7 linked regions of the Homo sapiens genome follow. The protein of the gene in region 4 purifies or fractionates together with the protein of the main gene of each other region. This does not show direct contact. Each region holds a gene or a part of one and is shown on either strand. Other genes may lie near its edges.

What was found.
Region 1: the proteins of LOX (region 4) and PPARA purify together in Homo sapiens (co-immunoprecipitation; one large-scale study listed by IntAct). This does not show direct contact.
Region 2: the proteins of LOX (region 4) and ATP6V1A fractionate together in Homo sapiens (co-fractionation; one large-scale study listed by BioGRID). This does not show direct contact.
Region 3: the proteins of LOX (region 4) and ATF1 purify together in Homo sapiens (co-immunoprecipitation; one large-scale study listed by IntAct). This does not show direct contact.
Region 5: the proteins of LOX (region 4) and ALG13 purify together in Homo sapiens (affinity purification with mass spectrometry; one large-scale study listed by BioGRID and IntAct). This does not show direct contact.
Region 6: the proteins of LOX (region 4) and ATP5F1C fractionate together in Homo sapiens (co-fractionation; one large-scale study listed by BioGRID). This does not show direct contact.
Region 7: the proteins of LOX (region 4) and VWA8 purify together in Homo sapiens (affinity purification with mass spectrometry; one large-scale study listed by BioGRID and IntAct). This does not show direct contact.

The regions. Positions count from the first base shown.
Region 1 is NC_000022.11:46,157,026-46,160,525, forward strand, and holds part of PPARA (peroxisome proliferator-activated receptor alpha), read left to right. Parts: intron 1-3,500. UniProt on the Homo sapiens protein: Ligand-activated transcription factor. Key regulator of lipid metabolism. Activated by the endogenous ligand 1-palmitoyl-2-oleoyl-sn-glycerol-3-phosphocholine (16:0/18:1-GPC). Activated by oleylethanolamide, a naturally occurring lipid that regulates satiety.
Region 2 is NC_000003.12:113,795,535-113,799,034, reverse strand, and holds part of ATP6V1A (V-type proton ATPase catalytic subunit A), read right to left. Parts: intron 3,160-3,500; coding exon 3,096-3,159; intron 793-3,095; coding exon 589-792; intron 1-588. UniProt on the Homo sapiens protein: Catalytic subunit of the V1 complex of vacuolar(H+)-ATPase (V-ATPase), a multisubunit enzyme composed of a peripheral complex (V1) that hydrolyzes ATP and a membrane integral complex (V0) that translocates protons.
Region 3 is NC_000012.12:50,795,101-50,798,600, reverse strand, and holds part of ATF1 (cyclic AMP-dependent transcription factor ATF-1), read right to left. Parts: intron 2,704-3,500; exon of another isoform or gene 2,693-2,703; coding exon 2,592-2,692; intron 1-2,591.
Region 4 is NC_000005.10:122,065,478-122,068,259, forward strand, and holds part of LOX (protein-lysine 6-oxidase isoform 1 preproprotein), read right to left. Parts: intron 1,273-2,782; coding exon 1,266-1,272; 3' UTR 1-1,265. UniProt on the Homo sapiens protein: Responsible for the post-translational oxidative deamination of peptidyl lysine residues in precursors to fibrous collagen and elastin. Regulator of Ras expression. May play a role in tumor suppression. Plays a role in the aortic wall architecture.
Region 5 is NC_000023.11:111,729,670-111,733,169, reverse strand, and holds part of ALG13 (UDP-N-acetylglucosamine transferase subunit ALG13), read right to left. Parts: intron 2,776-3,500; coding exon 2,743-2,775; intron 2,646-2,742; coding exon 2,590-2,645; intron 1-2,589. UniProt on the Homo sapiens protein: Catalytic subunit of the UDP-N-acetylglucosamine transferase complex that operates in the biosynthetic pathway of dolichol-linked oligosaccharides, the glycan precursors employed in protein asparagine (N)-glycosylation.
Region 6 is NC_000010.11:7,791,177-7,794,676, reverse strand, and holds part of ATP5F1C (ATP synthase F(1) complex subunit gamma, mitochondrial isoform L (liver) precursor), read right to left. Parts: intron 1-3,500.
Region 7 is NC_000013.11:41,884,610-41,888,109, forward strand, and holds part of VWA8 (von Willebrand factor A domain-containing protein 8 isoform a precursor), read right to left. Parts: intron 2,753-3,500; coding exon 2,588-2,752; intron 2,222-2,587; coding exon 2,172-2,221; intron 1,420-2,171; coding exon 1,311-1,419; intron 1-1,310. UniProt on the Homo sapiens protein: Exhibits ATPase activity in vitro.

The sequences.
Region 1 (3,500 bases), on a different chromosome or scaffold from region 4:
AAATGCAGGCCCAGTGAATCTCCCCATGCCTGGACACAGTTCCGTCAAGCCAGGACCCGGTGCTGCCTGCACCCCTGTTTCTGTTAGTCTGACTGTCCTCGCTGAGTCTAACTCCTTGAGGGCAGAGAGGATGTCTTATTTATTTCTGCCCCGCTAGCCGTGTAAACTGAGTAGGTACTTGTAAATGTTCATTGAATAAGTACCTGATTAATAGAATTTAATTCAAGAAGAATGTATTGATGGGCCTGTGTGGTCACCACAGTACTGAGATGTAGGTGGGAGCTGGCTGAAGGGGGAGGCACCTAAACAGGAGTGCAGACAGCGGCACCTACGGATGATGGCCCGCTCCATCCCACCGCAGCGAAATTGTCCCAGACCTCTGCAGCTTCCCCCACACCTAGACTGAGAGAGAGCTCTTCTTCCTTCTGTAGGGAGCAGGTGTTTCCTCCAGATGTCCAATATGTACCTCCCATTACAGCGGTGTTAGGAAGGTGAGGGCTGCCGCTGAAAGGGTCCCCTTCATAATCATCACTAGATTTGGGGTATATTATGGATTAAATAGAATTTTTATAAGATGACCTGAGGATCTATTTAAATAAAATCCTCTTTCTTTCTGCAAGATCATGGATTTAAATTCAACACAACTGACTTCATAGGGAAGGGGTATGGTGAAAGGGAAGTGAGGTGGGCAGCACTGATATTTAACAAGGTGAGGGTCCTTCTCCTGCTCTGACTGTCACATTAAAATATTCCCAGGAGAAATTGGAGAAAACTCAGATGAAATATCGTCTGTGTTCCAGGAGGCAGGACTCATCGGAATGCTTTTATTTTGCTCCATTTTAAGAGATTTGCAGATAAAGAGGAGTGAAGATTTCTATTCAGATTTACTTGCTTTATATTTTAACTTATAGACCACAAGCCAACTTTCGAAAGAGCATCATTTTGAATAGTAAGAGTTAGGAAGGCAAATACAGAAGGACTAATGGCTTCCAAGATTATGAGCTTCATAGGAATGGTTTGAGATGAGGCTATAGTAAAGCAGAATATTGAAGTTCCCCCACCCCCTTTCATTTTTCATTTTTCATTTTTAAGAGTGAGCGAGGCCAGGCGTGGAGGCTCACACCTGTAATCCCAGCACTTTGGGAGGCCGAGGTGGGCAGATCACAAGGTCAGGAGTTTGAGACCAGCCTGGCCATCATGGTGAAACCCTGTCTCTACTAAATGTACAAAAATTAGCCAGGCTTGGTATCAGGTGCCTGTAATCCCAGCTACTCAGGAGGCTGAGGCAGGAAAATTGCTTGAACCCAGGAGTCGGAGGTTGCAGTGAGCTGAGATCGCACCACTGCACATCTCAGAAAAAAAAAGAGTGAGGCCCCAAGTTTTTTTGCATTTGTTTGTAACTGAATACGTCTGAAGTTATGTGATAACCACGCCAAGGTGACAAATTGCCAAGTTTCAGTAAAAGAGACCCAGTTATTTAGAGGTTGACACGTGGATATGTCCCTTTCTAAGAAGTTCGTGGTCAGCTTTACATGAGTATTTAAATGCGTGTTTATAATTCAGCAATATGGCTTGTAAAATACAGATTGCCAATCAAGTGACATGCAAATCTTGATGATCTGAAACAAGTTTTCTTCTGTTATCTATGGAAGAAATGGTAATAGGGATATTTAAGTGGGATGAATTTTTTGAAGCATTTTCAGGCAGTTTTCCACATGGAACAAAATAACATTGAGTGGGCTGCTAACATGAGGAACATATTGCCCTCTGCCTAGGATTATGAGTAAATTTGATAAATTCTAGACTGCAGTCTCATTTTAGCTCATTTTATGAGGCAGCTTGACAACTGGGATAGTGTCTCTTTTTTTTGTCGGGGGTGTTGAGGCTGGAGTCTCGCTCTGCTGCCCAGGCTGGAGTGCACTGGCGTGATCTCGGCTCACTGCAACCTCTGCCTCCGGGGTTCCAGTGGTTCTCCTACCTCAGCCTCCTGAGAAGCTGGGATTGTAGGCATGTGCCACCACGCCCGGCTAATTTTTGTATTTTTTAGTGGAGACGGGCTTTCACCATGTTGGCCAGGCTGGGTCTCAAACTCCTGACCTGAAGTGATCTGCCCGCCTCAGCCACCCTAAGTACTGGGATTACAGGCATGAGCCACCACACCTGGCTTCTGTTCTATCTGTGCATTGGGGATGAAATTAACACAAATGATGTTTAAAGAAAAAAATGCTCAGAGAAGTTAGAAATGTGCTTTAAATTGGAATCATCTCTTAGTATGTAAAAGTTTTTTGTAATAGAAACAAGCAGGGCAGTATTTGACCTGTTGACAGTGTCCTTGGACTTTACAATTTGTGAAGCAGCGTATTTTGCTTGAGTTGTACGATTGTCGTTTTTTTCCCCCCACTTTGACAACTGTTACAGAACCTGTCACCAGATACAGGCAAGGGAGGTTGGGCTTCCCATCTCTGCACGGCTTCCCTGTGATTCACAAGCAAGCAATCAGAAGTGCACAAAAGTTTAGAACGCGATTTTCATTCTCTTCTTTCCTTAGAAAAACTCGCTTTGTTAGCCTTTTCCAGAAAGGAAGGCACTCAATTGTTGTAATACTCAAATCATAAAAAGAAGCCTAGTCTAGTCTATTCAGCAAGGTGTTCTGAAAGAGGGAATTTTTTAAGTTCAATTATGCGAAGATCTTGAAGGTGGGACTCAAAGGAGAGGGCTATCCTGGGAAGAAGGCTTTGGAAAATGAGAGGCATGAAGGGGAGAGGGTATTTAAATGTGTTTGAAGCCAAGGATCCTTGAGAGAAAAAGCTGGCACTAACAGCGTTCAAAGAACTTGCGTGACAAGTGATGACTAATGACACTGAGGGTGGGTTGTGGGTGCCTAGTGAATTCCTCCGAAGCCAAGAGAGAGGTTTCCAGACCCAGGGAAGAAGGTGTGTACACCCAGAAGTAGTGTAGGGACAGAGATTCCGATCACAAGCTGTGACTGGAAGACGCCGACCACCACTGCAGCAGCCTGAAAACCACAGTCTTGAACCGCCAGCGAAGGGCTGGGAAGTGCGGATCCAGGGCTGGTGCACTGAACCCAGAGGAGCAGGCTCCCATTCCCAGCTAAGGGTGGCAGCTGGCGGGGATCTTTCCAGCAGAAAGCTGTAAGTGGAAGCTTTCAATTCAGAGCAGTAGCAATGCCTTCAAAGTCCCAGGCTTCACGTGGGAACAGAGAATGTGAAGAGTATTTAGCAGGATGCCAATATAAGAAATCTATATTGGTGTTCGTTTGTTTGTTTTTGAGATGGAGTCTCGCTCTGTCACCCAGGCCGGAGTGCAGTGGTGCGATCTCAGCTCACTGCAATCTCTGCCTCCTGGGTTCAAGCGATTCTCCTGCCTCAGCCTCCTACATAGCTGGTACTACAGGCACGCGCCACCATGCCTGGCTAAATTGTTGTATTTTTAGTAGAGATGGGGTTTCACCACGTTGGCCAGGCTGGTCTCAAACTCCC
Region 2 (3,500 bases), on a different chromosome or scaffold from region 4:
TAATACATGTTAGAATGTTAGCTATCTCCTAATATTAACCTTTTTTGGAATAAATTAGGAGATGACTTTGTAACATGTAATAAAAAGAACAAAACCAGACAAAGAACTCTGAGTACTAACTAGCATTGCATACTATCTGAGAAGTCTTTTCATTCTGGCATTTAATTTGCCTAAATTTAATTACACCATCTTTCCTTGAAGAATCCAAGATACAGGCACAAGAATGTAACTCACCTGTTTAAGGCCAATAGCTAATTATTGGAGGAACTAGAAGCCAATCCTTCTGAAACCTAGCCCTAGCATTCCTACAAAAATGTATGCTAACAAATCCTAAATCTACTACCTCTAATTTGGTTGGTGATGGGTATATTCCATTTCAAGATAAAAGTAAATCAAATGTTTCTTTCTCACATACAATATACCCAAAAACCATGCTAAGTACTATAATGAATAGAAAATTTCAATTAAAAATATTTAATAAATATTTATTTTGCTAGGCAAGAATCTGTAATATCCAAGGCTCTATCTGTCCTTGAAACACCCCAGTGTAACCCACAGATCTATCTTCCATGGAATTTAACAACTCACCTTTCCCACAAGCTGTACAATTTCTGCCAGGTCTTCTTCTTCCTGCAGAATTTCCTTAGCTTTCGTCCTCAGAGGAACGAACTCTGTGAAGTGTTTGTCATAGTATTCATCCAAGGCACGCATATACTTGCTGTAGCTGATGAGCCAATTGACAGAGGGGAAATGCTTACGTTGAGCTAGTTTCTTATCTAAGCCCCAGAACACCTGATTAAAAAAAACACACACACAAAAACAGTAATTTTTCTCAAAAAACAAAGTTAAAAAATACCGAAGCATGTTTGTCCCAACTATGCAATTCTTTTTTTTTTGTTTTTGAGACAGAGGCTTGCTCTGTCACCCAGGCTGGAGTGCAGTGGCATGATCTCGGCTCACTACAACCTCCACCTCATGGGTTCAAACAATTCTCCTGACTCAGCCTCACCAGTAGCTGGGATTACAAGCATGCGCCATCAGGCCCGGCTAATTTTTGTACTTTTAGTAGAGATGGGGTTTCACCATGTTGGCTAGGCTTGTCTCGAACTCCTGACCTCATGTGATCCCTGGCCTCCCAAAGTGCTGGAATTACAGGCATGAGCCACCATGCCTGACCCCTAAATATGCAATTCTACAATTCACTGGTCAAATTATACATCGTTTTAGTATATACTAAGTAAAATTAAAACAGAATAAAACTTGCAGAAAATGACAATAATCTATTTCCTTTCATTTTCCAAGTGCATAATACCTACAAATCGAATTTAAAATTTACCTCTATTTTCTTAATACTGTGCCAAATCCAAAAGCAAAAAGAAAAATTAATTTACTCTTTTGAAAATTATTATGGTACAATAGAACCAGAAAAGGTTTATGTAGATCGAATACACACTTTACTTTGATTAAAAACCTCTAACTGGCCAGGCATGGTGGCTCACGCCTGTAATCCTAGCACTCTGGGAGGCTGAGGCAGGTGGATCACCTGAGGTCAGGAGTTCGAGACCAGCCTGGCCAACATGGCAAAACCCTGTCTGTACTAAAATACAAAAATTATCCGGGCGTGGTGGTGGCGCATGCCTGTAATGCCAGCTTACTTGGGAGGCTGAGGAGGAAGAATTGCTTGAACCCGGAAGATGAAGGTTGCAGTGAGCTGAGATCACGCCACTGCACTCCAGCCTGCATGATGGGGGTGAGATTCCATCTCAAAAAAAAAAAAATTTTTTTTTTAACTGTTCTGGGCCAGGCATGGTGGCTCACGCTTGTAATCCCTGCACTTTGGGAGGCTGAGGCGGGTGGATCACCTGAGGTCAGGAGTTCAAGACCAGCCTGGCCAACATAGTGAAATATTGTCTCTATTAAAAACACAAAAAATTAGCCAGGTGTGGTGGCGGGTGCCTATAATCCCACCTACTTGGGAGGCTGAGGCAGGAGAATCACTTGAACCCGGGAGGTGGAGGTTGCAGTGAGCTAAGTTTGTGCCATTGCACTCCAGCCTGGGCAACAAGAGTGAAACTCCGTATCAAAACAAACAAAACAAAAACATCTAAGTGTTTTGATTAAATTTAGTTGCCTATCATTCACAGGGCCAATCCAACAACAACTGACAGTGATTTTTGTAAGGGCAAACATTCACAGATATTCCATGCATTTCTAACTCTGTTCCCTCTTTCCCCATAATTTAAAACTCAAAATTTTAGCAAACGTTAAAAAGCTTGAGAGTTGTACATTTAGCCTCTGACATTTCCTTTTCTCTGATACTGTCAGAAACACAAGTAAATATTCTGTTTTTCCCACATGAATAATATACACATATCACTTTTTTTTTTTAACTATAGCTCTGATTTGTACACATCTTTTATTTGGGCTTCTTTTAATAGCCAAGCTGGCTACCTATCCACTAAAATTCATGTCTTGTCACTGGAAAGCAAATGCTTAGGCAGAAACTGCATTTTCCAGCCTTGCTTTCACCTGGATGTGGCTAATAGAATGAGTGGAGTGACTGTGTCACTTTTGAATCCAAGGTTCAAAAAAGGTGGGTATGCCTTCTCCACAAGGCCCAGCTCCCTTGTGTCAGCTAGATGCAGATGATCACCAGGCTAGGTGACAGTGGAGTCACAAGATGGAAAGAATCCTGGACTCAGAATTATCACTAAACAGAAGAGAGCCTTGGATCATACTGTGAAGTGAAATAACTTCTGGGTATTACACATTTTTGGGCCTCTTTGTTTCTATAACTAGGGTTACTATGACTTAAAGGATAATACTACTCTAATACTAATAAAATTTTTGCTACCTATATTTTCCACTTATATATTATTAAGTTTATTATAAATCCTATGTAAACAGCTAAGAAAAAAACAGACAGTATTAAAGGCTCTGTGTTAAGAGTGTTTCTAAACCAGACTTTACCATTGCCTATCCTTTAGAGACTAAATTAAATACTTCACAACGATTACATTAGATCGCATTAGAACAGCAGGGGCTGCAGAGAGGAGGAAAGGCTCAGAAGTTGACTATACTAGGGAAAGACATACCTGAACGATACCAAGAGTGGCAGATGTAACTGGATCAGAAAAATCACCACCAGGTGGAGAAACTCTAAATTTAAAAAAAATATGGTCATTACAAAAAAAATGGTCATTAGAAATGCTTATGAAAAATAACATATATATAAATGTTAACTTTTTTTAAAGTCGATTTTAATGTAAATAACTTTTTAATGTAAATAACTTTAGAAATGACCTTTGGAAAGAAAATCTTACCTAAAAATCTTAAACAAAAGCCAGTATTTAAGTTGTAAACAACAATAGAAACTACAGAACACCTTCTATTATGAGACATGAGATAGATATTTTATTATAATCAATTTTATTATTCTAATCAAATAGATGAAGCAAGGAGGAAACGCTCTAAGAAAAAAGTATGGCTTTATGTAGTGA
Region 3 (3,500 bases), on a different chromosome or scaffold from region 4:
ATGGTGACTCACGCCTGTAATCCCAGCACTTTGGGAGGCCAAGGTGGGCAGATCACGAGGTCAGGAGATTGAGACCATCATGGCTAACACAGTGAAACCCCGTCTCTACTAAAAAATACAAAAAATTAGCCAGGTGTGGTGGCGGGCGCCTGTAGTCCCAGCTACTCGGAAGACTGAGGCAGGAGAATGGCATGAACCCAGGAGGCGGAGCTTGCAGTGAGCCGAGATTACTCCACTGCACTCCAGCCTGGATGACAGAGCGAGACTCCATCTCAAAAAAAAAACAACAACCATGAAACTACCCAAATTAATCATTATTACTATTGTTCTAAAAAGCCAATGCTAACTGAAATGAATTGTCTTTGTTCACCATACTTTCTCACATTTATATTCCTTTCATTTTCTTCTTCCTGAAGTATACACTTAAGTAGTTTCTTTTTTCTTTTTTTTTAGAGATGGAGTCTCACTCTGTCACCCAGGCTGGAGTGCAGTGGCACGATCTCAGCTCACTGCAGCCTCCGCCCCCTGGGTTCAAGCTGGGACTACACGCATGTGCCACCATGCCTACCTAATTTTTTTATTTTTAGTAGAGATAGGGTTTCTCCATGTTGGCCAGGCTCGTTTCGAACTCCTGACCTCAAGTGATCCACCCGCCTCGGCCTCCCAAAGTGCTGGGATTACAGGCGTGAGCCACTGTACCCAGCCTCCTTAAGTAGTTTCTTAAATCAGTTTGAAAATGATTATTATTTCACCGTCATTTTTGAAAGACTGTTCAGTAGGCACAGAATTCCAGGTCAAAAGTTACTTTCTCTTTGAATTTAAATATTGGAGCCTGAGTACAGTGGCTCATGCCTGTAATAGCAACACTTTGGGAGGCTGAGGTGGGAGGATCACTTGAGCCCAAGAGTTTGACACCAGCCTGGTCAACATAGTGGGACTCTATCTCTACCAAAAATTAAAAAAAATTAGGTGGGCATCATGGCATATGCCTATAGTCCCAGGTACTCAGGAGGCTGAGGAGCTGACCCCAGGAGGTTGAGGCTGCAGTGAGCTGTGATCACACCACTGCACTCCAGCCCAGGCAACAGGGTGAGACCTCCGTCTCAAAAAAACATGTAATAATTTAAAGATAAAAATAAGGATTTTAGTTCATTGTCTTATACTGTACTTCAAAAATCTGTTGTCAGCTTACTGGTCCTTCCTTTCTAGGTAATTGGTCTTTTCACTTGGAAGCTTTTAGCTTTTAAGATCTCAGGTTTATCCTTGGTGTTCTCCAGTTTTACTTTACAACATACACCTAGATGTAGGTTTCTATTAATTTATCTTGTTTGGGACCTTGCTTTCTTATGCTGAGAAATTCATATCCTGGAAATTGCAGTCATTATCATTTTCTCTCCTGGAGAGACTAGAAGCTGGAAGTGCCCTTCCCTCTTCTCTCCTTTTATCTATGTATGTTGTGTACTGGACCTTCTCATTCTGTGTTCTATCTTAACTTTGTCTTTCTGTGTTCCATTCTAGGTAATCTACTCAGAGCTGTATCCTCAGGTTCTCTCATTTTGTCTTCAGTTACGGGTATTAACCCCTTATCAGATAAGTGGTTTGCAAATAATTTTTTCCCAGTCCGTAAGTTGCCTTTTCATTTTGTTGCTTTGTTTCCTTTGCTACACAGACACGTTTTTTAGTTTGACGTAGTCCCATTTATTTATTTTTTTGTAGCCTAAGCTTTTGGTGTGATATCCAAAAAATCATTGCCAAGGTCAATGTCGAAGAGCTTATCGCCTATGTTCTCTTCTAGGATTTTTATGGTTTCAGGTCTTAACATTTAGGTCTCTTATCCATTTGGTGTTGATTTGTGTAATGGTGTAAGATAAAGATTAAATTTACATTTTTTTTTTTTTTTGAGACAGAGTCTTGCTCTGTTGCCCAGGCTGCAGTGCAGTGGCACAATCTCGGCTCACTGCAACCTCCGCCTCCCAGGTTCAAGTGATTCTCCTGCCTCAGCCTCCCAAGTAGCTGGGATTACAGGTGTGCACTACCACACCCGGCTAATTTTTCTATTTTTATTAGAGACGGGGTTTCACCATGTTGGCCAGGCTGGTCTCAAACTCCTAACCTCAGGTGATCTGCCCGCCTCAGCCTCCCAAAGTGCTGGGATTACAGGCATAAGCCACTGCATCCGGCCAAAGGTCCAATTTCATTTTTTCTTGGAGACAGGATCTTGCTCTATCACCCAGGCTGGAGCACAGTGACACAATCACAGATCATTGTAACTTCAAACTCCTGGGCTCAAGCCATCTTCCCGCCTTAGCCTCTAAGTAGATGGGACTACAGGCGTGCGCCACTATGTCCAGCTAAGGTTTGTATTTTTTGAAGAGACAGGGTCTTGCCATGTTGCCCAGGCTGGTCTTGAACTCCTGGGCTCAAGCAATCCTACCTCGGCCTCCGAAAGGGTTGGGATTATAGGCGAGGGCCAACCAATTTCATTCTTAACACTGACGCGTGCTAACTTCTTTAGTGTACTTTGCACAGCACCTCTTGAACTCATTTGGTACTATCATAACATGCAGGGCTTCATACAAGAGAGTACTCACCTGTAAGATGGGCGCCGTGCTAGGATCCCGTGGGCTTTCTGTGAGGAGCCTATGCTGTCGGATGAGTCCTGGGACTCCTCACTTTCTGATAAAGATGATACCTAAAAAAGAACTGGCATTAACATGATGAACAATGCAGGTGGGAAAAGAAACAACTGAATTTTTACTTTTAGAAAAAAATGATCTGTCTCCTGCCACTCCAATTCATTTGTACATTAAATCTAAAGTCTAAAAGAAAGGAACAAAAGGAAAAGGAAAAATGAGAAAGTTTATTCCAGGAGCCCAACCTATTAAAGGAATATCAAATATAGCAGGCCCAGAGCTGAGAATAAAGTCTGTCCCCCAAATGAAGCAGTACTATTTTACCAGAGTTAAAAAGACCAGGCTCTGATGTCATTCTCCACCCTATTTCTACACTGATGCACATTACTTAAAAGTGTTGTTTTATTACTAATCTACCTGACATGCTAAGTTTGAAAAACCTGTTATATATTCAACTGCTGACATTGAGACGAATATTAAATATACAAGCCTGTAGGTCTGGGAAGAGGTCTGGGCTAGATACATAAATTTTGGAGGTCTAGCTTTTTAGAGTCCTTAAAGCCATGAGACTGGATGAGCTCATAGGGGTAAATAGAAGAGGACTGAGGACTAACCTCAGGAACACTAAGAGACTGGATGAAGAGGAGGAACCAGCAAATGAGACTAAGGAGTCACCAGTAAAGAAGAGAACCAAATGATTGAGCTGTCCATGGAAAACTAGTGAAGACAGCATACTGAGGAGAAAAGAATGATCAACCATGTCCAATGCTGTTTACAAGCTGAGATAAAATAAAGACTGAGAACAGACCATTCGATTTAGCAAGGTGGAGGTCACTGGCAATGGCAGGTATAAATATATGCCATTTT
Region 4 (2,782 bases):
GTTTCAAATGAAATCACAGCTGTCTCATTACGCAGCACAGTCCTTGGTTTTGCAGAAAGTATATTTTTCCTTTGTTCACCAACCCCTCAAGTATGTAATACTATGTGCTTTGCTAATTTAGACTATATCTCAGACACACACACATGTGTGACTGATTCCTGAATAACCCAGGATGATGTTCCTGTGTTCTAGATAATATAAAATTTTTAACATTCCTCTAATAGCTGAACATCTTTTTAAAATCTAGAAAACTTGAAAAATCCTAAAATGTTTTTCAATTTTTTTAAGCTATTTGAGAGACAGTTGTGGTTTGGGGGGGACTTGTTTGTGTGATTTTTATGTCAGCAAGAAAATTGTATCTTTGGCAAATACTTTAATATGTTTAAATGCATTTTACCTCTGGATGTATCACATCAGTCATCAAAATGACTTTCCAGTTTCACGGCTGCCTTATGTATACCAGTCCCAAGAATGGTGATATTAAGAATCCCACTTACAACATCTCTGCCCATGGGAAAGATAAAATGATAGAGGGCAGCCTCAAGAAATATCAGACAGGATTGGGCAGCTCCCTTACTTAATTTGTTCCAAAACAAAAGTTGACTCAAGTCAAAATGAAATTGTGCACTTGAAAGAAAGGAAGTTATCTACTAATTTTTTAAATGTAAACATACTTTTTATATAGGGATGTAACTATCTGAGTACATGTATTGCCATTTCTCTGCTATATAGTAATATTTCTTGACACCAATGGTAATGTGTTTGTTTCTTTCTCAGCACCAGATGTGTCCATATGTATTTAAACAGTAGGAGCATTGTTTCTAAATTCATCTATGCTATGACATATATAAACCCATTATTATTATGTTTCACTAAAGTTCCAGCACTTTAGAAAAGTTTCAGTTCAAAGTCATTTTGGCTCATTCATTTAGATAATACTGACCATTTTGCACTACAATTTCAAAAGGAACATGAGAAATTTGGATTTCTTTGAAAGAGTCAAATATGTAATTACAGAATTGAAACACTGTGTTAATTCACAAAGTGATGTAAATAATAAACATTAAAAATTTCCCAAGTAATGATGACTTAAGCGTTCAAAATCCAGTTATGTGCTTTGTTATTGAAAACAGTCCAAACAAAAATTCTTTTGTTGTTTTCTGTTCTCTTTTTCAAAATACATAAATCCTACTGAAGTTAGTCTATTTTTTCCCACTTCAGAACACCAGGCACTGATTTATCCATTGGGAGTTTTGCTTTGCCTTCTAATACCTAGATTAAGAAGACAAAATAAGACAAATTATTAACCTGATAATATAATGAATGAGTACAACAGACAAATTTAAAGTCAACCTTTTAAAAACTTTATGCAACAGTTTCCCTCCACCTAAGCAGCAATCATGTTGTGAAATTATGCAGTAGTACATCATTTTAATAATGGTTTGAAGAAAGTGACTATGTCAACAGCAGAGATGCCTGATGCCTACACTCTTCACATTTAGAGGCAAAGAAACCACTTCTGAAACACTCAAGAGTACAGCAGGACTTCTGGGACCAGCATCCCTGACCAGGGGAATTCATTCCATGGAACAAGGGTGGCATGTCCACCAAGAAGTAGAGTCAAGGCCTCTGCTCCATCTTGAATTAGTCCTTCTCCAGCATGGCTTTGGATGTAGAATAATACATTAATAGGCAGAAACTGGACCAAAGCTAATCAATCAAATATTACTGTCTTTAAATGTGACCATAGATCTTCATGTAAGGAAGTGAAAATTCACTTATTCAAATCATAAACTACCAATTTCCAAACAGTAAATTCTGTGAGGAGAAAAAAAAAAACTTACATAGTATCTTATAACTGAAAGAAGCCTCAGAGTCACCTGGTCCGTACATTTTGTTTCAGTGAGGAAAATGAAGGAGAGAGGGTACATTAACAGCACATACCTATTCAACTATTTACTGGGTGGCTTTTACACATCAACAGAATGCTCTTAAATATCTGGCAGGAAAAGCAATCAGTGAACTGATACATGATATGTCTTCAGAGTCACACTCACTGCTGCTTACACAGCCACCAGACTGACCTGATGGCCTTAGGCAAGTTACACTTCCTGCTCAAAAAGCTTCAGCCTCCCACTGCCTCCAGAATAAATTTTAGCCTGCTCTTCAGGGCTGTCTTCCATCTGGCTCAACTTACTTTTCCATCCTTTTTGTCCAACTCGTAACTCCACAAAATTCATGCTTTAGCCAAACTAGAAGACTTGTTTTTCCAAACATGCCCTGCAGTTTCCTCCTGCCATGCAAGTTGCCTGTGACGTTGACTTGCCCTGGGCTTCCTTTCCTTAATGCTCCCCGGTGCATTCCCCAGACTTCAAGGCTCAATTCAAATGTATCCTAAAGTCACTCCTGAAACTCAGCCCAAAGAGACCTCTCCTCTGTCTGAACTCTGATTCCTAGGAAGGAAGGCCTGATGTGAAAGTCAAAATGTAAGAAGCAAGTATTACTATCCTGAAGGTGTGGGGTTTTTTTCTCAAATATTCTATACTTTCCCCAATATTTCCACTCAGAATAAGTATGACATTTTATTATGATCACTAATTATAATTTCACTTTTCATATTTTCATCTGGTTTATATTAGTTATAAACATTCCAGCTTCAACCACTCTTGAAGTTTGTTACAGTCAGTAATAACTAGTAAAAAAAAAAAAAAAAAAAAAAATTCAACTCTATATGAGTGACCACATCAGGAATCCCTCTTGTACAGTCATATTGCTGGAGCAA
Region 5 (3,500 bases), on a different chromosome or scaffold from region 4:
GTTCTCCAAAAAACCTATTGAAATTAAAAATTAAAGACAAAGAGTTTTTTTTTAATGTATGCTGATAATTCTGAAGACATTTATCCTTTATTTTAGCAACAATAGAAATTTGCTATGGATTTGGTGATGGGGGCAGAGGGCTTGGAACATATGAAGAGATTGAAAGCTATTGAGGTTGTTTAAATTCAGAACAAAAAGGAACATGTGACAAGTGAAATTGAAGGAACAGAAAAAAAGTATTCTTGTCATCCCTTGTGGTAAGATTCTTACTTGGCTACTTCAAGAGGTGATATCAAAAGCACATGATATGAGAATAGTAATGGTGGCAGGAAATGGGGGAAAAAACTTTCTCTGGAAGGAGCAAAGTAAGGGAAGGAGAAAGAACAGAAAGAGAATTACGTATCAGAGTTTTCTTCTCCTTCCTAAGGTATATTGTCTAAACAGTAAAAACAAAAATTTAGTACATGAAGCTGCCACAGTTTAGTCATAATTAGAGAATATAAGGTAGTTATTCAAGTTCTTCATAAATATTCCAGATTTCCTGAATAGATGGTAGGATTGCCCTTCCCAGCTCCATCCAAAGTCAAGAATGACCATGTTACTTGGTCAATAAAATATGACCAGAAATGTCAGTGTTCAATTTCTGTATCTTTTGCCCTGCTGTGATGATCATGATGGCATGTGTCCATCAGCCTGGGTCCCTGGGTGACTATGAAGAACAGTCATAGTCTGGCAGCCTGCTGCCAACTCGCATTGAACTATATAACATTAGCAAGAACAACTTTTCCTGAGTTAAGCCACTGAGATTTTGGGGGGTTGTTAACTGCAGCATAACCTAGCTTGACTAAAACAGAAATTGGTAACTAGAAGTAGGGTACGGCTATAACAAAATCCTAATTGAGAAGGAGATTATGAACATGTAGCTCTTAGGGTAAGCAATTTAGAAGACATGATGTTAGTATTGTGCTTTGATAACTGTTGGCATTGTCTAAAGCAAGTTATTTTAAGACAGGTGTATGTAGGAGAGAATTAGTAGTTTGCAGGCAGGAATGAAAGGGAATAGATTCCTTGCATACAGGGACTCACAGGGTTGAAGGAACAACTGTTTCAACCCTAAACTATAAAAGGTAATATTGATGAATGGTTTGAACAACGACAAACAGTGAAAACTCGACCTCGCAGCAAGAATGAACTCTTTGGTTAAAACCCGAGTGTATTAAGATGTCTCAAAGCTAGAGTTCAACTAAGGATGTAACACCTAGTAAATCCTTGCACTTCAACAAAATGGCTTGTAGAAAAATGTCCAAAATGCATGGCTCTTCCATCAGTGCCTGATAAACTCAAGCCACTTGCAATCAAATAGACAGAAATATAAGGATAAAACCACAAAGAATTATAGCAAATCTTAGTAGTATATCTATAGAAAAGAACTGTAGTATGGCTATTGGTACATGAAACCAAAAGAAATCAAACAGAAGCAGAATAAATTAATCTTACAGCCAAAGAAATCACGAGCCAGAACTAAAACCATTCAACTGAGATAAAACCACCCTTGGGCCTCCAATCTTCTGTAAGTAGCAAGCTTAGAAAGCTGCTCGGTTGCCAAGGAAGGATTATTCTCCAATGCCTACTCCAAACACTGCCAAGGAAGGATGGGCCTTGGGAGTAACCAAGAGCCCCAGAAAATGAACGAGAGTTCCTCCAGGGAAGAGTCCCATGAGTATGTTGGGGGCCCTTACAACGTCTGCCCATGAAGGTCTCAGAATTGCTACAGGCCAATAACTGTTTTTTTCTCCCTTTATGAATAGAAATTTCAGTCCCTGCTTCAGCACTGTAAACTGGGGAGGGAGGGGGAAAAAATAAAACCTCTGTATTTTTGGTTTTAAGTCTCAAGATCACAAGAAGCTACATCTGGACCCAATATAACAAGTACTACACATAGCCCAGAAATCCTAGGCTTTGAGTTTGATTACACTGAATGGGACATTTTAGGATGCCTCCTTTGAGACAGAAACAAGTATTCTGCCTATGAGAGGGAGGGCAAGTTGAATGATATAGTTCTTAGCGCTGTTAACATGTTTCTTTTTGCCTTCCAGCACAGAAAAGTTAAGACTCTTCAGTGGGACCTGCTCTGGCCAGTGAAATGGAAAAGAAAGTGACATGTATCACCTCTAGTGGAAACTCTAAGAGCCAGTGCACCATTTACCGAATTTTATTTCCTGCCTTGGCAATTGTGGATGAATTTCCATCAGCCTAAGTACCTGAGCAAGCCCTTCTACAGACCTCTACTAGACATGTAGCATAAAGGAGAAGCAAACTTTTGTTATATTGAGTGAGATGTATCATCCATTCTAATAAAAAAATCATAATAAAACCTTCTAAAAGATCATTACTGCCTATGTTAGAATATCTCTAAATATATTAGTTCCAGAACACGAGTTAATTTCTGTCTCAATTTCATCTTCAAAATGAGAATGATACTAAGCCTCACAGGGTTGTTCTGATTTAAATACATTTATATGTATAGCTCTTAACAGTGCCCTAGTACATAGTAGGAGCTATAACTCTTTGCTATTATTAAATACCTACCAAGTTTGCTGTAGATGCAGTTGTGCTATAAACACCTGAAGTTTCATAGTCTGGCTCTAGAGAATATAGCCAAAGTAAAAAATGAGCATTATTTTATAGCTTGAAATTCTATAAACAATGATGAATGCCAGATCACTTCTAGATCTTACTGACCTGCACGATAAAGATATTCTTCATGATATCGCCCTGGGGAAAAAAGACAAGACAGAAGAAATGTGTTTATATAGGTCTTTTTAGCTCAGCAGAGCCAAATGGCCAGCACTTGCTTTTTCCACCAGTTTTATGGTTATATGTTCAAAACTAAAATGCATACATCCTGAAAAGTGATATGAGCTTTCACACTAGTCAACAGATATTGAAGCCACAGACTAGCTGTAAGCTGTACAAATTTCTCCTCTGAAAATCCACTTAGCTCTTAGAGGTCAGGCAGAAGTGAAAACTCAGTTGTGTCCAATTTTTCCAGTGAGGCTACAGTGTGGTGATTAAGCACATAGGCTCTGGAGTGAGGACTGCCTAGATTTGAATTCTGATTAACTACATGACTTTAGGCAAGTTATTTAATCTCTGTGCCTCAATTCTTCACTGTAAAATGGAGTAACAGTACCTAGCTCATAGGCCTTTTGAGGATGGTTAATGGAAGTGAAAGTAACTTAGCATAGTGCTTTACACATACTAAATACTCAATGGTGTCTATAAAGTATGAGTATAATCCACTGTTTCCTTAGGTGGACATTAAGGGAACATGTATGCCTCATCTGTTTTTCAATCTGTTTCATGTAAGTAATACATGTAAAATGAGTGTGTCCTCAAAGGATGGCTCAGTAGACTGAAGTACTTTTAAGATTTCTGTACCACTGAAATGCAGAGAAAGTCAATACTCAATCGGACAGTTTTCCACCAAATATAAACCC
Region 6 (3,500 bases), on a different chromosome or scaffold from region 4:
GGTTCAATATTAAAAAATCAAATAATATAATCTATTACGTCAACAGGTTAAAGAAAAAATCATACAATCAATAGGTGCAGAAAAAGCATCCAACAAAATCTAACACCCAGTCATGAAAAAGTCTCTCAGCAAACTAGGAATAGAGAACTTCCTCAACCTGCTAAAAAAAAAAAAAACAACACACAAAATCTCTGATTTAATGGGAGAGGCTAGGAGCTTTCCCCATAAGATTGCGAACAAGACAAGGAAATCCCCACTCATCACTCTTCTTCAGTATCATACTGGAAGTCTTAGCTAATGCAGTAAGACAAGAAAATAAGAGGCATAGAAATTTGAAGGGAAGGAATAAAACTGTTTTTGTTCATAGATGACATGATTATCTATGTAGAAAATCCCAAAGAATAAAAATAGCCCCTCCTAGAACCAATAAGCATTTATGACAAGGTTGCAGGATATAAGGTTAGTGTATATAAAAAGCTAGTTGCATTCCTCTGCAGCAGCCCTGAACTACTGGAGTATGAAGTTAAAAATGCCCGCACACAATTGTATGGTTAAAATGATAAACTTCATGTTCCATGTGTTTTACAATTTTAAAAATCCATTAGAATCTCAGCAAGTTTGATTTTAGTTGATATCTATTTTGTGGATATCAATAAACTGATTTTCAAGGTTATATAGGAAGGCCAAAGACCTAGAAAAGTCAAACAATATTGTCAGGACTGACACTACCTGACGTTAAGACCTCCTCTAAAGTTACAGTAATAAAAAAGCAAAAGCAATTCAAGGAAAAAAGGATATTCTTTTCAACAAACAAATGGCACTGGAACAACTGGACACTAATATGCAAAAATATTAATCTGTACAATGACTTTACAAATTTAATAAAAATTAACTTAAAATGAATCACAGGCCTAAATATAAAATGCCAAACCATAAAACTTCTACAAGATACCACAGGAGACAATCCAGGTGCCTTGGGTTTGGCAATGAGTTTTTAAACACAACACCAAAAGCATGATCCATGACAGAAAAAAATGAGTTGGGCTTTATTGAAATTTAGAACTTCTGTCCTGTGAAAAATACTGTGAAGAGAATGAAAAGTCAATCCACAGGCTGGGAGAAAATATTTCTAAAACTCATCTCTGATAAAGGACTTGTATCCAAAACAAACAACTCTTAAAATGCAATAAGAGAACAAACAACCCAAATAAAAAAAATGGGCAAAAGATCTGGAAACTTCACCAAAGAAGATCAACAGATGGCAGGGCCAGGTGCGGTGGCTCACGCCTATAATCCCAGCACTTTGGGAGGCCGAGGCAGGCGGATCACGAGGTCAGGAGTTCCGAGACCAGCCTGACCAACATGGTGAAACCCCGTCTCTACTAAAAATACAAAAAATTAGCCAGGCGTGCTGGTGGGCACCTGTAATCCCAGCTACTCAGGAGGCTGAGGCAGAAGAATCGCTTGAACCCAGGAGGTGGAGGTTGTGGTGAGCAGAGATCGTGCCATTGCATTCCACCTGGATGACAGAGCAAGACTCTGTCTCAAAAAACAAAAACAAAAACCAACCAGATGGCAAAAAGCACATAAGATGATGCTCAGTATCATGTCATTAGAGAACTGCAAGTTAAAACAGTAAGATATCACTACACACCTGCAAGAATGGATAAAACCCAAGAAACTGACCAGCAAATGATGATGAGGATGTGGAGCAAAAGGAACTCTCATTGATGGCTGGCAGAATGTAAAATAGTACACAGCCACTTGGGAAGATGTTCTGGTAGCTTTTTACAAACCTAAACCTAGTCTTAACTTACCCAACTGAGATGAAATGTTATGTCCACATAAAACCTACACAAGAGCATGTAAAGCAGCTTCATTCATGATGCCAAAAGTTGGAAGCAACCCAGATGTCCTTCAATACATGAATGGATAATCTAACTCTGATACATCCATACAATGGACTATTATTCACCAAAACCACAAAGGAGCTATTAAGTTATAAAAAGGCATGGAGAAACCTTAAGTGCATACTGCTAAGGGAGAGAAGGCCATCTGAAAAAAAGCAAATACTGTATGATTCTGGCTATGTGACATGCCAGAAAAGCCGAGGATCTAGCAATAGTTGAGAGAAGTGGTTGTCAGGGTTTTGGGGAGAGTAGAGGAGGGATTTTTAGGGCAGTGAAGCTCTTTGGCATGATATTGTAATGGTGGATACATGTCATTATGCATTTGTCCAAATCCGTGGAACTGTATAACAAAAAGAGTGGATCTTTGTTTTTTGCGGTTTGAAGACAGGGTCTCACTCCCCTCACCCAGGCTATAGTGCAGTGGTGTGATCATGGCTTCCTGCAGTCTCAACTTCCTGGGCTCAGGTGATTCTCCCACTACAGCACGAAAAATATTAGGTTTGGTTTTAAGAATGAATCTACTAAAGGAAAAGATAAAAGCTGGCAAATCCTGACAAGCTCTGTTATTTCAGAGCACAAACTACCTGCCATGACTGTTCTACTACAACAGCTTTTCATAATCACACTTGAAAAGTAATACCAGTTTTTGGTCAACCTTCCTTTTTTGGTGTAGTAATGACTTTTCTCCCTGAACACAAAATTTATTGGTTATAACAAGTCACTCTTGGATATTATTGTTTTAGGCAGACACTTCAACTGACACAAGTTTCTAGTCAGAGAATACCATATGGTATAAATTTGAATTGAATACCATATTTGGACAAACACAGAATGTTTTGGTTTCCTTAAGTACTCCAAGTCAGAGGTATGAAGAGGTAGCATCTTTTGTGATAATGCTACGCATTTGCCCTAATTTCATGTGTTTTAAAGCACTCTCATGTTTAGCTTTCATTTAATTCTGAAGACGTCTATGTTACTACTTTAATTGTTAGGTACAATTTGAGTAAGAACAGTGATGAGCTAATTGAACTCTCTTTAGGGATAGCTTCCTTTATTAAATATAAAAGTTTTGCAAATGAGGAGATAAAGCTCTGAATCATTGCACGTCCTGAGATCCTCGGGAGACTAAGAAACACAGTGGAGGGAGAATCAAATGGACCGTGGATTACCACTATCTACCATGATTCCACAGCGCTGTTATAACAGCTGACGAAGGCAGTGGAGGAGGGAGTCAGGAATGACACCCTTCCAAGAAACTATTGTTTGAGAGATTTTTAAGGAGTATATTAAGATACATAAAAACTTAAAAAGCAAGCAATATTGGCTAATTCTCAACGAAAATTATGAAGTGACTCTAATTCTGATATTAAGCGTGTAAAAGTCCATTACCTGCCACCAGCAAAAACTGACTCCTTCACACTTACCTAACCCACACCCATGACTGCATCATCTTTTTTTTTTTGTTTTTGAGATGGAGTCTCACTGTGTCGCCAGGCTGAAATGCAGTGGCACGATCTCAGCTCACTGCAACCTCCGCCTCCCGGGTTCAAGCAATTCTCCTGCCTCAGCCTCCCGAGTAGCTGGGACTAC
Region 7 (3,500 bases), on a different chromosome or scaffold from region 4:
AAATGTGGCAATATATTAATAATGGGTGATTGTAGGTGAGGGGATTATGAATGTTTTACTGTTTTTCAACTTTTTTTTACATTTGAGAATTTTCAAAGTAAAATGTTCTAAGCAAAAACAAAAGATTTCATAAGAATTTTCAAAATAAAATGTTCTAAGCAAAAACAAAAAGATTTGATAAAAGTATAAGATTTGATAAACAGGAGGAGAAATTCTGTTCTGGATGTATAGAACAATGTCAACAATACCTAGGCTCCCTGACTCACATGAAACATACATATATACATACATACATACATACATACATACATACATACATACATACAAGTTTAAAAATAAGTCTCTTGCCTAAGATAGTATTCCCACTATCTTGGATGGTGCCCTCCTCCACAGGGTCTCACTGAGTGTTACAAAAGCTTCCTAGTCATTCCCTCACTTCCAACAAAGGTGTCTTCCTCCAACATAAGTCTGGTCACATTCATAGCCCACCAACTTAATATTGTCTGATAAGCCACTTTTTCCATATCATAAAATCCAGGAAACTTCATTCATCATGCAAAACATTTCACAATAGCGGTCTGACTTCTCCCTCTACCACACACACTTGCTTTAGGGATACAACTTATTCTCATTCTCCAAAGATACTAGGCCCTTTTGTGATTAAACACATTTGCCTGTGCTTTGACTTCCTGGGCCTTTTATCACTCCAGACATGACCGCCATGCCCTTTGTGAAACTGTAGTGGACAATGTCTGTACTCTATCAGATCCCCTCAGATCTGTTTGCATTCTCTCTTGTGCCTCCTAGCTTTCTCTTCCAACAGCAATTGCTGTAGGTCTTTCTAAGAAGACGATCCTTGGGCTCTTGAAGCCACCCTTGCACACATGCTGGGAGAGCAGTTAGTGTCTGGGAATTTGTGTCCCCTGAGACAACCATGACACAGAGACTGATGGAAGCTAGAACAGTGTGAAAGCCCTAGCTCCCCTAACTCAGGTAAGGACAGCTCTGAGGCCTAACTCACACTGCAGCACACCTCTTACTTGATCAGGCTAAAGCCTTCCTTCCCTCTGTAGAACTTTACTGAGATTGCATGTCTAGCTCCTACTCCAAAGCTGAAAGCTCTTTAGGGGCTCAGAACATGTCCTTGGTCTCTGTACAGTTTACTGCACTGCACAACAAATTAATCTCAGGCCTTACAATATTTATAGAAGAGTATGACAAAAGCAAACTGAAGTCATTAATCCCTAATGATTAACTTTCAAAATTTTTAACATATTTGGGTATGCCAGTCATTAATTTATTTTACTTACCAAGATTTGAACCGCAGCTGCTAAACTATCTAAAGGAAAGTCTGGAAGTCCAAGAGTAGAAGATTCTTGGGAACACAGAGTTGTGGCAAAGGACAAGAGCTGAGAAACTCTAAGGGAAAAATGATATTAAATTTTAATAGTTTTAAAATATAAAATGTGTAAGTTGTTAAATATAAAATACAGGGGCCAATTTAATTAATCTAAAAAAGATCCCTAATATTAATTCTTAAGGAACAATGGTTCCGCATCATAATATCCTACTTAAAACTCAGAAGCTGATTAGATGCAAATATATTCCTAAATTCATCACAATATTTGAGGTTTTTCACCACCTGGTCCAAATCTACCCTGCCAGCCTCATCTCTCACATTTCGTAATCCCAAACCTAAACTCTAGCCTCCAAGAGTTTTTTATGGCCCTAAAAACAAGGCATAAACTCTCACATTCCATGCTTTTAAAACAAACAAACAAACAAAACAAAAAAAAAACACTTGTTGTGTTCGAATTTCTTGATTCCACTCTCTATCTGGCAAAAACTTGCTCATTATTTAGGACCCATTTCAAACACCAATGCTTTTATGAAGCCCTTATAAAGTCTCAACTAATGCCCCCAAATATTTTCAAATTATGGCACTTACTATACCATGTTAACCAAAGCTATTCACATATCTTTCAACTCTATTAGATCTTGAGTTTCCTGCCAAAGATATCTTATTAATTTTATCACCAAACATCCTAATACTGAAAAATTCTTATAAGAATTCTAGTTGTTGAATGACTGAATTAATTAATCAATCAATCAATGAACAGGCAAAACAAATTCAATATTCAGTGTCCAGACATTTATAAAAATATACTTACTTCTCAGCAGAAACATTGGCTCCAATTGAATATAACAACTTAAGTTGGTCCTAAAGTAATACAGAAACATATTAAATTAATTAACAAGAAATGTAACAGATTAAATGCAAATGTTTTGTAGATACAATCCAACCTTTTAATTAAGCAGACACTAAATATTTAACAGCAAAAAATCATTTATTGATACATTTCATTTTCTAAAAGAAAAGCCAGCCTTTTAAAAAAAATCCTTCAAATAATGCCATAATAATTTTTCTTCCTAGTTTCCAGAGCTTTTCTTTACTCTTTATTCTCATATCTTTCCATGACCTACTCAGGAAGACATTCAAAACTGCAGTAACATTTTTATAGCATTGAAGTTCTTGTTATAAATAGAAAAACTGTTTAACAAATAAATTATCCTTGGTCTTACTTACCTTGAAGGGTAAATAATAAATATCCCTGGCTTGAAATCGAGAACGAAGAGGGGGGTCTAATGGATTCCCAGAATACCTTGGCACTGGCAAGCCCAAGGCAATCACTCGGAAATTTTCACTAACTCGGACAATTTTCCAAGAATCCAACTCTTTTTTGGTATGATCCTATAAAAGTAAGAGATCCGGAAGCTATAGCATAAATGATACAAATCACAACTGTAAGAGCTGCCAAGTCCAGGGACTTAGGACTTGACTGTTGAGAAAACTGTATTGGAGAACACTCTCAAATCCATACTGTCAAGGAAGGCAGCAAAGTGAAATCAGGTTCAGGATGCCAGGGCAGGCTCACAACATGAAGACTGGGGTGTTTGAAAGGAAAAGCAGTTAACACACCAAGGAATAAAGGAGACTTGGGTCAGATCTCCAAGCCTTAGTCAGTAACACAGAGGAAAACAGTCAGGGGGTAAGGAAAATACATGACTAGAGGTTGTAACAAAGGTAGTCCCCGACGGGCAGATCACCAGCAAAGCTGTGATTGATTACCAGTGGACCTTAAATAGATAATTATGTTTATGGTTATTCCTAGCAAAGCATATTACTAGCAATAACTAACATGTTTTGGAAACTTACTATGTGGTAAGCACATTCCATGGATTTTTCTCATTTAACTTTCACCAGAATCCAATATAGACTATCTCCTTTTTATATGAATGAATGAATCAAAGTTCAAAGGAGTTATATAACTTGCCCATCGTCCTGCAACTAGCATACAGTGGAGCTTAGAGAATGGAAACAGTATGGGTTTTAGAGTCACAAATCCTGGCTCAACTGCTTGATGTACACTTTTACTAAATGTTAGCGTATGCATGGTATTATACCTTTGGAACCTTAGCCTTCTTAGTAGGAAAAATAT